2 linked regions of the Homo sapiens genome follow. The protein of the gene in region 1 interacts with the protein of each later gene in a biochemical or structural test. Each region holds a gene or a part of one and is shown on either strand. Other genes may lie near its edges.

Evidence for each region.
Region 2: of the proteins of MAPK13 (region 1) and FGF12, one has a biochemical effect on the other in vitro, tested with the Homo sapiens proteins (one study listed by BioGRID).

What each region holds. Positions count from the first base shown.
Region 1 is NC_000006.12:36,140,352-36,145,153, forward strand, and holds the end of MAPK13 (mitogen-activated protein kinase 13), read left to right. Parts: 3' UTR 1-4,170; downstream 4,171-4,802. UniProt on the Homo sapiens protein: Serine/threonine kinase which acts as an essential component of the MAP kinase signal transduction pathway.
Region 2 is NC_000003.12:192,724,393-192,732,318, reverse strand, and holds the start of FGF12 (fibroblast growth factor 12), read left to right. Parts: upstream 1-4,777; 5' UTR 4,778-4,835; intron 4,836-4,995; 5' UTR 4,996-5,125; coding exon 5,126-5,138; intron 5,139-7,926. UniProt on the Homo sapiens protein: Involved in nervous system development and function. Involved in the positive regulation of voltage-gated sodium channel activity. Promotes neuronal excitability by elevating the voltage dependence of neuronal sodium channel SCN8A fast inactivation.

The sequences.
Region 1 (4,802 bases):
GAGATGGCACAGCTCTCCAGAGCTTTGACCTGACAGTGGCTAGAACCTCTCTGTTTTTATCTGAGAAACTTTGGCAGAACAAATTTCCATGTGCACAAGCTGTCGGGCACAGTGGGTCTCAAATTTCCTTGTGCACCAGGGGACTTGTTAAAATGCAGATTCCTGGGCCCCACCCCAGGGCTTGTGACTCAGCAGGTCTGCAGTTGAGACCTTAGAATGTGCATTTGAATGAGGACCTCTCGCCCTGACCCAAGCCTAGTGATTCTGATGGATATCAGACCATAGTTCGAGACATTTAGTGGATTTCAGTCATACTTGATTTGTTGGGAGGCCTAAATCAAAAACCTATAGGAGGAGACTGGGGGGCTTCAGATGGAGTTTCACACTCATCTTACAGGTGTTAAAACTGAGGCTCAGAAAGCTTTTTTTTGTTTGTTTGTTTGAGACAGGGTCTGGCTCTGTCACCCGGGCTGGAGTTCAGTGGCACAATTACATCTTACTGCAACCTCAGCCTCCTGGGCTCAAGCCATCCTCCCACCTCAGCCTCCTAAGTAGCTGGGACTACAGGTCTGTGCCACCCAGGTGCACCAGGACTGCAGGTGGCTAATTAAAACATTTTTTTTCTTTTTTGTATAGGCGGGGTTTCTCTATGTTGCCCAGGCTGATCTTGAACTTCTGGACTCAAGTGATCCTCCCACTTTGGCCTCCCAAAGTGCTGGGATTATAGGCATGAGCCACCCTGCAGGCCCAGACAGCATTTTTAAGGCCTTGAAACTCTTCTGTATAATACTGTAATGGTGGATACCTATTGTGCATTTGTTACCATCTGTAGGACTGGATAACACAGAGTGAACCCTCAAGTAAACTATGGACTTCAGTTAATAATAATGTATCAGTATTGGTTCATAAATTGTAACAATTGTGCCACACTAATGCAAGATGTTACTCATCAAGAAAACTGAGGAGAGAGAAGGGGAGGAAGTAGGTGGGAACCTCTATACTTTCTACCAACCTAAAACTGCTCTAAAAAATAAACCACAGGCCGGTCGCAGTAGCTCACGCCTGTAATCCCAGCACCTTGGGAGGCTGAGGTGGGCGGATCACTTGAGGTCAGGAGTTCAAGACCAGCCTGGCCAACATGGTGAAACCCCATCTCTACCAAAAATACAAAAATTAGCTGGGCTTGGTGGTGCATGCCTGTAATCCCAAACTACTCGGGAGGCTGAGGCAGAATTGCTTGAACCTGGGAGGTGGAGGTTGCAGTGAGCTGAGATCACACCACTGCACTCCAGCCTGGGTGACAGAGTGAGACTCCATCTCAAAAAAACAAAAAAAACAAATACCCTGAGGACACAGAGACATTGGGTCAGACACCCACAGCTAGGAAGTGGTGGAGTCAGATTGGAACCCAAGTAGGCTTGAGCACTGTACCCAGCTTGGATTCAAGGGTTGCCCAGCCTTCCCTCTTCACGCCAGTCTGAGACCCTTACTGCTGACTGTGTCCATGGTCTCTGTTTTCTCTCCCACAGAATGGCCCTGCTGTCAAGGAGCTGGGGAGTCCTTGACTGGGACTGGCTAGTCTTGCCACAGCCCTGGCCTCGCTGGTTACTAAAACTGCCCCAGGTTCCCTGAGTCTACATCCCTCTAAGCCTCCTGAGAATTCTCACTGCCCCAAGGAAAAAGTCTAGCCTTCCTTCTTGGCCTGGCATTCAAAACCCCTTGTGTTCTCTCTAATCTCATCAGCTCCCACTGCCTCCCCTAGCTAGTCCTTATGTCAGTGTGGGACACCAGTCCTGGGATCCACCGTAAGGTTCATTCTGCATTCACAGGTTAAAGGTCTTGACAAGTCCTGCAGTAAAGAGATCCGTTCCTCATTTAATCCAGAACTTCCCAGATGTACTTAACCGCAGGACCCATTTTCTCCCAACAGCATGACACACATAGCCTTTTTTGCCCAGTGCAGCCCAGTGCACAGGTCCCGATATTGCCTCTCCCCAAGTAGGCTTGGCCTTCTTTTAGTGCCCGTGCGTGGAAGGCCCTCCATTCTCCTCTCCATTCTCCTTGGCCTTCAAGGCTCTACCTTAGGCCTCCCTCCAGGCAGCTGTTCTCCATCATCCCCCCTGGGCTGCAGGCCCTCTGTGGGCAGCATTTAGTGTGTGGTTTGGCCTCCCCTTCCCATTGCCCACTGTGAGCAAATACCTGTGCGTGAATGAATAATGAGTGAAAGATGTCCCAGGGGCCTGTCGGTCACTTCTTTGCCCCGACCAGGCCAATGTCATATGGAAGGTGGCAGAGAGCCCAGCAGGAAGCAGAAGTGGGCGGCCCTGGGCTGTACCTTTGAGCTGCTCTCCTGAAAATCTCTATTATTTCAGACTCCCAGACCCCACCCCCCGCTTCATCCTCTGGTGTCCTCCTAGGCCATCCCCACTCCGGAATTAAACCTCAGCCCCTCCCACAGAGTTTTCTCAAATCTGTGAAGTTTCTTCAAAAGGCGGTGGAGGTGCTCAGCAGTGCAAGGTGGGGGGTGGAGGGGGTGGGGAGTAGAGGGAGTGGGGGTTCCACGGGTTTGGGTCTTGCCCAGTGGGCACATGGCCTGTGTAATAGGAAACAAGTCCATTCTCCTGCTGTGGGGGGCAGAGGAGCTGGCGGGGCGAGGGAGGGGGAGATGTGGGCTCAGGTATTCTTGGTGGATGCGCTTCGTTCTGTGGCTGATGGGGTGGCTTAAAAGATCTTAACAGAGAGAGATCAGGAAGCCAGACTGCAAGGTGGGGGACATTTCCTAAGAGCAAGTGTACCCTCCATTCCCTCTTTTGAGGAACAAAGAGTATCTTTGCTGGGGCCTGAGTCATCCATGAAAACAGACAGCAGCGGTGTCCCAGGGCAGGGCTTGCCTGGCGTGGATTGGGGTGGTGCTGCCCCCAGTGAGGGGCAGCACAAGGGGAGACAGAAATGGAGGAATAGCCCCCGTAAGGGCAAGCCCAGTGTGCACCAGTGCCCAGAGCTGCCTGATGGAGGAACAGCTCCGTAAGGGTGAACCCAGTGTGCACGGGTGCCCGGAGCTGCCTGCGTGAGGCTGGGGGCTAGTTTGGATGAGGGCATGGCTCAACTTTCACTTGGCACATTGAAATAGCTTTTGCTGTCTGCTAGGGTGTGGAAAACTGTTTTTCCATGGCCCCAAGCAATGCTATAGCTACAGCTGAGGAGGGAGGAATCTCTCCCTGCCTCTCCTCCCAACTCTTGGCTTTTGCTTCCTTAAATTTGAACAATTCCCTAAGATCTAATGCTGGGAGGCTCCCCTTCCTTCATTACACAGTGAACTCATGTGCTCTATCTGCATTCCCCCTAAATCCTCCTGAGCTTTTAGGTAAGAGGCCGATGATTTCACAATCGGCAGCAGAGGCCTAAGGCCATTCCATCAAACTGAAGATGGCAGCAAGTTGTCCTCACTTCTTCATTGAGCACCCATGGGTGTGTACTGGAGCAAGGGTGGTGCCAGGGATTCTCCTGCTCTGGTTCCTCCTGCGGGGTCCCTGCTCAGCTGGGCAGCTGCCCTCACTCTGGGCGGGTGGCATGTGAGTGTCAACAGGGCCCCTCTCAGTCAGGGGCTCTTGGCCATTTTTTGTGCCATGGATCGCTTCTCAAAATCATATTTTCTTTTCTTTTCTTTTGAGATGGGGTCTCACTCCATTACCCAGGCTGGAGTGCAGTGGTGCAATCACAGCTCACTGTAGCCTCGACCTCCCTGGGTTCAGGTGATCCTCCCACCTCAGCCTCCCAAGTAGCTGGGACTATAGGCATGCACCACCATGCCTGGCTAATTTCAGAATAATATTTTCATACACATAAAATATGTAGGATTACAAAGTAAGCTAGTTATATTTATATACAGTTGTCAAAATATTTTTAAAATGTATAACGTGATACTATGTGTATAGGTTTCTTTATTAACATATTGAATAAAAAGATCGAGGGTAGGCCTATTAAACAATGGTAAACTGAAGAGAGATGAGTGTAAACAATATTTTAAGATAGATACCTGTGGCAAACTGTAAAGGGATATGAAAAACTCTGTAATTTCTATTGGCACTGCTGATACAACTGCACTTTGCTACCTTTGTTCATAACCAAGGAAATAGAAATGACTGAAAATAAAGTTGTATTCTATTCCAATCCAAGTGCACAGACCCCTGAATTCTATAGTTTGTGGACCCCAGTTATGAGCTATTGGAATGAGGCTGTTCTAGCTACTGAAATGAGGCTTTAGGTATCCTCTGTCAATTCCTAACAAACCCCCCAGCCCCACCCTCTATGATCATGGAGCCAGGCTGGAAACTTCCAGCACTGCACCTGGACGCCCACACACTCATCAGGGCCCGCTCCTCTGGACCGCCCAACCTCACCATCTGGGTAGAAATGGACCTGACTGGGGCATTTTGCTAGGGCAGCACTCCCCAACGTTTTTAGCTCCAGGGACTGGTTTTGTGGAAGACAACTTTTCCATGGATGGAAAGGTTTTGGGTGGGGAATGGTTTTGGGTGAAACTGTTCCACTTCAGATCATCAGGCATTAGATTCTCATAAGGAACGTGCAACCTGGATCCCTTGCATGTGCAGTTCACAATAGGGTTCGTGCTCCTATGAGAATCTTGTGCCGCCACTGATCTGGCAGGAGGCAGAGCTCAGGCTGTAATACTCACCTGCGGCTCACCTCCAGCTATGCAGCTCGTTCCTAACAGGCCACAGACAGGTATCGGCCCCCTGCCTGGGGGTTGGGGAACCCTGTGTTAGGGAATTGGTGGAGGC
Region 2 (7,926 bases), on another chromosome or scaffold:
TTGTGACAATGAGTATAAAACGGGAACATTTTGGGAAAACCAGAATGCACATTCACCCCAAATACAAGAAACCCGGTCTCACCTAATTCTTGGCACTTTGAAATAGCAAATTGCCAGGCTACTAGTCTATTTCCCCTATTCCAGGATTATCATTAAGTGAGTTCATCATAACTAGATCAAATTATGTTTCATCAACACTTTTATGAAGCAATTCTTCCTTTAAATCCTCTTCCATTTTGGGATGGGGGGATTAGACCCTTTTCTTATTAAAAAGGAGGGAACCTTCAGGGATTCCAGCTCTAATCCTTAGCCTGGATGGATCCAAGACCCTATATATAATAGTGAGTACAATTTATTGAGTGACCAGTATTTTAGACACTTTTATAAGTATTATGGTCAGTCCTTACAACAGCTCTGCCTACAAGAAGATATTACTTACTTTTCCAGATTAAAAAAATAGGACCCAAATGGATTAATTGCCCAAGATGGTACCATAAATAATAAGAAGCAAATTGTATTTGAGCCCACGTCTGTCTGGTTCCAGAATCTATTTTTTTCACTATGCTCTACTGTCTCTCTATTCAAATGTATGATAGAAAACTTAGGTGAGATAAAGAGATATGATCTCTCCCAGATACTCTGGAGTTTTGTAGCTCTGATCCCGGAACAGTACTAAGCATTTCTCTGCCTCCGTCCACTTTCCTCTTTGACATTGGAGATTCACATCTGGCAGAGAAACCTGGAAAATGATAATAACTTCTTATGTCCAAAAGTACTTTTGCACACTCACATGGTCCCTGCCCCACACTCATACCCCAACCCTGTGAAGCTCACACTTCAAGAACTAGCTCTATATATGTCTCCTCCAGGAAACTTTCTTAAAACCCTCAGGCTGGCTGACTGCCAACTCTTCTGCACCTCCTACTCCACCTGTGACAACCTATCTTATACCTTACGATAGCTTTTAAAATCATTTATGTTTCTATCATCTTCAATAGACTTTATGCTTCTGTACGGCAGAGATCATGTTTTATTCATACTTTAACCTCTCTGTGCTCCAGGTTGCTTATCTTTAAAACAGAGATCATAATAGTACTAACCTCATAATATTTTATTTTATTTCTTAAATTGACAAATAATAATTGTACACATTCATGGGGTAAACAGTGACATTTCAATACATATAATGTAAGTGATCAGATCAGGGTAATTATTATATTCATCATCTCAAATATTGATCATTTCTTTGTGTTGGGAAACTTCAATATCCTCCTTCTGCTGATTTTAAAGTATGTAAAATATTATTATTAACTATAACCATATTACAGTCGTATAGAACACTAGAACTTATTCCTCCCACCTAGCTGTAATATTGTATCCTTTTACAAATCTCTCCCTCCTTCCCCCTACCCTTCCCAGCTCCTCCTATCCTTTGTTCTACTTTTTACTTCTATGAAATCAACTTTTTCTTTTATCTTACACGTATGAGTGAGAACATGTGGTGTTTAACTTTCTGTTTCTTAGGCTTATTTCATCAAGCATAATGTCCTTCAGTTTCATCTATGTTGCTGCAAATGACAGGATTCCATTCTTTTTTATGGCTGAATAATATTTTATTGTGTATATGTACCCCACTTTCTTTATGCATTCATTTGTTGTTGGACACCTAAGTTGATTCCATATTTTGACTATTGTAATAGTGCTGCAATAAACATATGGGTGCAGATATCTCTTTGATATACTGATTCCCTTTCTTTTGGATAAATTCCCAGTAGTGGGATTGCTGGATCATATGGTAATTCTAGTTTTTTTTTTTTTTTTTTTTTAGAAAACTCAATACTGTTCTCCATAGTGACTGTACTAGTTTACATTCCCACCAACAGTGCATAAGAATTCCCTTCTGTCTGCTTCCTCACTAGCATGTGCTTTATTTTCTTTGTCTTTTGATAATAGCCATCCTAACTGGGATGAAATGATATCTCTTTGTGGTTTTAATATGCATTTCTCTGATGATTAGTGATGTTGAACTTTTTTTCATATATTTATTGGCCGTTTGCATGTTCATATAGCTTATTTAATGAATAAAGATAATATTCATTAAACATTTAGAATCCTTATAGTACCTGGCACATAGTAAGCTCTGAGCAATGTTAGGTCAATATTATCATCATTTTGTTATCATGGTGATTGTAGTTAATGTCACATAGTAAAGTACACAAAAACATGTATGCTAAATGTTATTAATTCATGAAACATTTTTATTGTTTCCTATGTTCAGGACACTCTAGACTACACTGAAGTAAAAGGAGGCCATTTAAAAATATGAGTGGGAAAAAGGAACAAGATATATACATAAATCATTCTGGTACAGAATAAAAAATAGTGATGGAAGAGAAGTAACTCATCAGTTTTGGAATCATTAGTGAGCGGATCATCAGTGTTCTTGGTAGAGAATATTTTCAGACTAAGAGTATCAGGGAAGACTGTAAGAAGGAGATGGATCTAGAGGAAAATATAAGATTTGAATTTGTAGATACTTGTGGTAGGTAGTGGTTTGATGAGGTCAAGATATTCCAGCAATGACTATGTAAGCAAAGGTAAGAAAAATCTTGACAGAGGAGCTATCATGAGCAAGAAGGTTGTTTTCCCAGTCAAGGCTTATCAATTGCATTCCAGATGTGCTGACCCCTGCAATTTCCCCATACGTGGGAAACTAGACTGCATAATTTGTGGTAGTGGGGGTCTGTGATCCCACTTTCCCCTGGTTTAAAAACAATCTTGAGGTTTGTTTAGGATAATAGCAATTGTTGTCTAGGAGTTAAGCTTGGAGAAGAATGGAAAGATCTTGAATGTCAGAACACAAATTTTGCATTAAATTTGATTTGCTTTCTATTTAATAAAGCAGCTGGGTTCTTAAAATTATGAATAAAAATAATGATAATTTATGAACTAGAAGGTTCTCCCTGTTCTTATTCACTGTAGATAATGGGAAGGCAGTTATATGAAAAATCATTCTGGACTATAGATGGCTTGCCTCTGCCTTTGAGGTATGACACTTAGGTTCTGAGCCCAGATCTGGTTCACCATGTGACTCTTTTCAAGTGCCACTCCTCCCCTGCCTTTAGTTTCTCCGTCTGTAAAAGAATAAATATGAAGAGTACATAGAGATGCATTCTAAAGATATCTCCTATTCTAAAACCTTTGAGAAGGAAAGAACATGTAACGGGGTGCAGTATTAAGAGCAGAAATTATTTATCTCAATGAAATAGACTATTGTTCTTAAGGAGCAACACTACTCCCACCCTAAGCTTACTTCCTAAGCCTATTCAACATTGAAAAGAAATCCTGAATTTTATGATTCTTCCAAACACGTACTTTGGCATACAGTTGGAGAACCTAAAAATTAGTAGGCCCTAGGTTGTGGCCTCTGCAATCCGATACTCCTAAATGCTGAATGGATCCAGGCGTTGCTGACCCACAGCAGTTCATTAGTGGGAGTCCTCCACTAATAATGTCCATGTCTGGCTGAACCATCCGTGGTTAATATTTGTAATCATGGCCCTCAGGCATTGGAAAAATCAAAGGATGCCCTCTGAATCACCAGAAAAAGATTAAATTAGATACAACTCCAGGTTTCTTGTTGGGAGTACATTTTATTATATTTCAATGTTTTGAAAATTGGGACTAGAAGCCTACTGTGGAAGGATCTTTCATGAAGTAGAGTATGTGACTAATCTGCACATCTCCTTCCTTAACCATTTCAGATAACAGAGTTTTCTGGACTTCTGGAGAATAAGATTATTATTCTCAAGGAGAGATGATCACCTCAGGAAAATCTGGACTATTGAAAAAAAAAGGTAGTAAATACAACACAATTTTTCCTGTTAAACATTTTGCATATAAACGAAATACAGTGTGGGCTTTAGAAATATTTTGATATGAAAGTAGCACTTCAAGAGATTTGTGGTTTTGCATCTTCCTCTAGAGCTCTGTACAAGAAAAATACTCTATCCCTGCAACTTCACAAAAATGATTAGGTATTGCTTTTGGAAGTACTTATTATCAATAAGACGCCTCCCCACCTTTGGGGACTTCTTGCAGGTTGTTGGAAAAAAGCTAAAAAGAGCACCTCAAAATATCCTCAGTGGCTTTTTTGAAGAACTTTAGAAGCCTTGGAGCCTGCTCATGGAACAGTTTTGAGGTGGAGGCAGGCAGGAAAACACTGAGTTTGAGTAACAAAGAAGCGAGAGAATATTAACCTTTGACAGCTCCATAACTACTCTCACCCCACTCTCGAAAAACAAAACAAAACACATACAGGAATATAACAAGCAATGTGAAGTCAGTGGGGAGAGGAGAGGGAAGCAGACAGCTGGAAAGTTACTGCAGCAAGTAGAAAGAGAAACCCAAATTGTGAACATTAAAAACGATTCGTAAATCTCTCCTCCCTGCCTTCTGAATAAAACCATACCCTGCCTGGAGACACTAGCCTCCTCTAAGACTTCAGTAATTCGTCCTGATGCACGCAGTACTAGTCCAATCCATTTTCTAGTTTGCAGAGGAAAATCCGGTCCGGCGTTTATTTTTAGCAGCGCTTCCCTGTGACCGAATGCTACAGCTCCTCAGCTGGGATAACTGAGGACCGTATTGGGGAGGGAGGCGAAGGGGGCGGGGGAGCGGGAGGCGGTGAAAAGGGGAGGGGGGACGCCCTGCGCATGCGTGCCAGCGCCCATGCAAATCTGCTGTGCATCCAGAGAGCAAAGTGGGATGATCTGTCACTACACCTGCAGCACCACGCTCGGAGGACAGCTCCTGCCTGCAGCTTCCAGACCCAGGTAAAAAAAAAAAAAAAAAAATCTGAGCGGGCACTGTGCATGCATTTCAGTATCAGATGCGCGTCGCAACGTATCCCCTGTAGAGGCAATCTGCTGCTGCTCCTAAGTGTCCTTTGGTGGCTGATTGCAGCTTCAAGGTTTAAGAAATCCCATCTTTCAGGAAGCCTGAGGGGAAGGAAGGAAGTACGGGCGAAATCATCAGATTGGCTTCCCAGATTTGGGAATCTGAAGCGGGCCCACATCTTCCGGCCAACTTCCATTGAACTTCCCAGCACTCGAAAGGGACCGAAATGGAGAGCAAAGGTATGTGGTTGTCCCTATCGGGGGACTTCCCGCTGCATGTGCGTGTGGCCAAGGCAATCCTCGGCGAGGGGACTGCAGTGCTTGGGGAGCGAGCATCATACTAGGTCGATAGAGGAGGAGATGCTATGTCCATTGCAGCACTGGGGAAGTGTGGCAGGAAGGCGACTTCTTTTTAACTCCCACAGCTTGGAAGACAGTGTTTAATACTCCATCAGTTGCGTAGTGAACTGTGATGAGTTTTTTGGGGGGAGGTGGGGAGAGTCCCCCCAAAATGGAGGAGGAGGAGGAGGTATGTGTTAGTAAAGCAATATCTTTTCTGTATAATGGATGGACTCAAATAAATCTATTTCATTTGCTTTAGAATTGCTGACAGGCACGTTTGTACCTGATATCCAATAATGCATTGCTAAAAAAAAAATGTTTGAATTTCACCACCCCCACCTCATGAAGATGGTATTTCTGGGTGTGTATGACCACATCCTACTGCATTTTGAATATATATCAGCAGAGAAATTGGGTCTATTTGGAACAGCATGCGTTAGAACTGACCTCTAAGAAGAACAGTGTATGGGAGTACTGCTTGGCTTCCAAGCATAATGCATTTACTAGTTCTGGACATGTACATATTAATGTTCTCCTCATAAGCAAATCTGCATAATGTATGCATGCCAACTGATAAATGAACTGTAAAAATCAACTTCTGAATGGCATATTGAACACACATAAACACAACGACTATTCTAACCACAAGATTAGATATCTTTTGGATTTAACCCCATCTATGCAGGTCTGTTTCTCCTTCTCCTTAAAACGCCCACCAGGTTGTGAGAGCCTTGAGTGATATGGTGGTCAGATATCCAGGAGGCATACTGGATGTATTTAATTCTGGCGAAATCAGAAGAAATGATGTCAACTTTTATGAAACTATATTCATTACCCAGAACTCGGGAAGCTATATTTGAAACAAGATTTTATTTTTAAACCAGGAATGTCAGTCACTGTGGTAATGTACTTAGGATCAGGGAATGGTGGTGAGTTACCTATTTCTGGGCTGATTAATGAAACTGGAGTGTTGAATGATAGCAGTTCTATGTTCAATAAAGTGTTTTAAGTATTTAATTGGTAGATTTAAAGTATTTGAACCTAGGCAAGCATTTATAGTATAAAAAGAGCTGAATCAACATGGATTAAGACTAGCAGGCAATTTTCAGTTCAGGCAGATTATTCTTATGATACATTGATGGGCATCTCCACGTCTGACAATGATGTACACATATGAGAGAATCCATGTCTATAAGTATATTTGAGGCATATATTATTAACTCTATTATACTCCATTTTAAAATAAAAAGGCAGTCCTTAACATATAAAGGTTTGTAATATTCTAGCTGACTAAGTATTTCTGGGACATAAGGTTAACAACAGAAAAAGAATATCATTTTACTATGAAACAGTTTTTCTTGCTTAGATGACACCTGGTATTTGGTCACTAAATTTAGTTATTTGACAAAGGTTCTTGGTAACAGTTTTGCCTCCAATGTGTATACTAATTCCTGTTCAATCATAAAAAGAGGCTATATCTCTCGGCAGTAATCTTTTATTTTCCTTCGTTGCCCATAAAACATGCTACGTGTCACTTAGCATTCCAGGTGGTTTAATGATCATATTGCTAACAGTAGAGTTCTAGCTGTTCTTTCAGTCTTTTGAATTCAGAAAGGAGAAAGAATCTCAGAAATACATCCGAAAAGAATCAGTTCAGAAGTTCTATGTCAATCCAGACAGCAATGATATAGTGAATCACAGCACTGATCCAAAGGCAACGAAGACTTTTGCTGTAGGCCAACATTGTGGTCATTTTGCAGAGGTCCCATAATTGCCTCTGAAAAAAAAAAAAAACATGATGAAAGTCTTTATGCATGTTAGTTCCTGGACTTTCTTAATGAAGCTGTGTTAGCTGCTTGGCAATCAGATTAAAAATGGCTAATTACTTATACATTGGCCTCACTTTCTAAGTTGGTGCAAATGGCACAGCTAACGATGGTAGCTAACTTGAAATTTTTATTCCAGCCAAAAAGAGTGTATTAAGAGAAATGTGTATTTGTGCAATACTGTAATTGGTGCATCTTTCACATTTTATGCTGCCGTGTACAAACTTCTTCCCCCAACAGATTCAAATCTAATTCTAGGAAGACATTCTCAAATGTATGTATATATAATACTTTTCTAGTAGAAACTCTTTAAAGATAGAGTCATATTGCGTGACTCAGTTGAGGGTTCAAGAGTTCTCTATCCCATACCCAGATCTAATGGCCTGTTTAATCTTGAATCCCATCGCCAACACTTGACAACTTTCACATTACCTCTAGCATTTGACAGCCTTTCTTAGAGCATTTGTCCAGCATCCAGAAAGTTGAACTTCAGCTATTTACAAATAAGATCAATTTATTTTTGCTTCCTTATTTACAACTTTGCATCACTCCCTGTCATACAGGGTAAAGAAGAGAGGAAAATACATCAGTTGACCTGAGGTTCAATTCATGATCTAATTTCAGCGATTTTTGTGCACCATGTACTTAACATTGTCTCAAAGATTTGGGTTGGTACGCAGTCCGAGCAGCTCTGACGGAATTTGTGCCTTGCGTATCTTAAGGGCTTGAGATTCTTAAATGAGTTAAAATGTTTAGTATTTAGAGGAGTGGTTCACAAAGTTTGCTGCACACTAGAATCACCTGACATACTTTCTGAACATACTCATCCTGAGATGGCACCGCATACCAATGAAATTAGA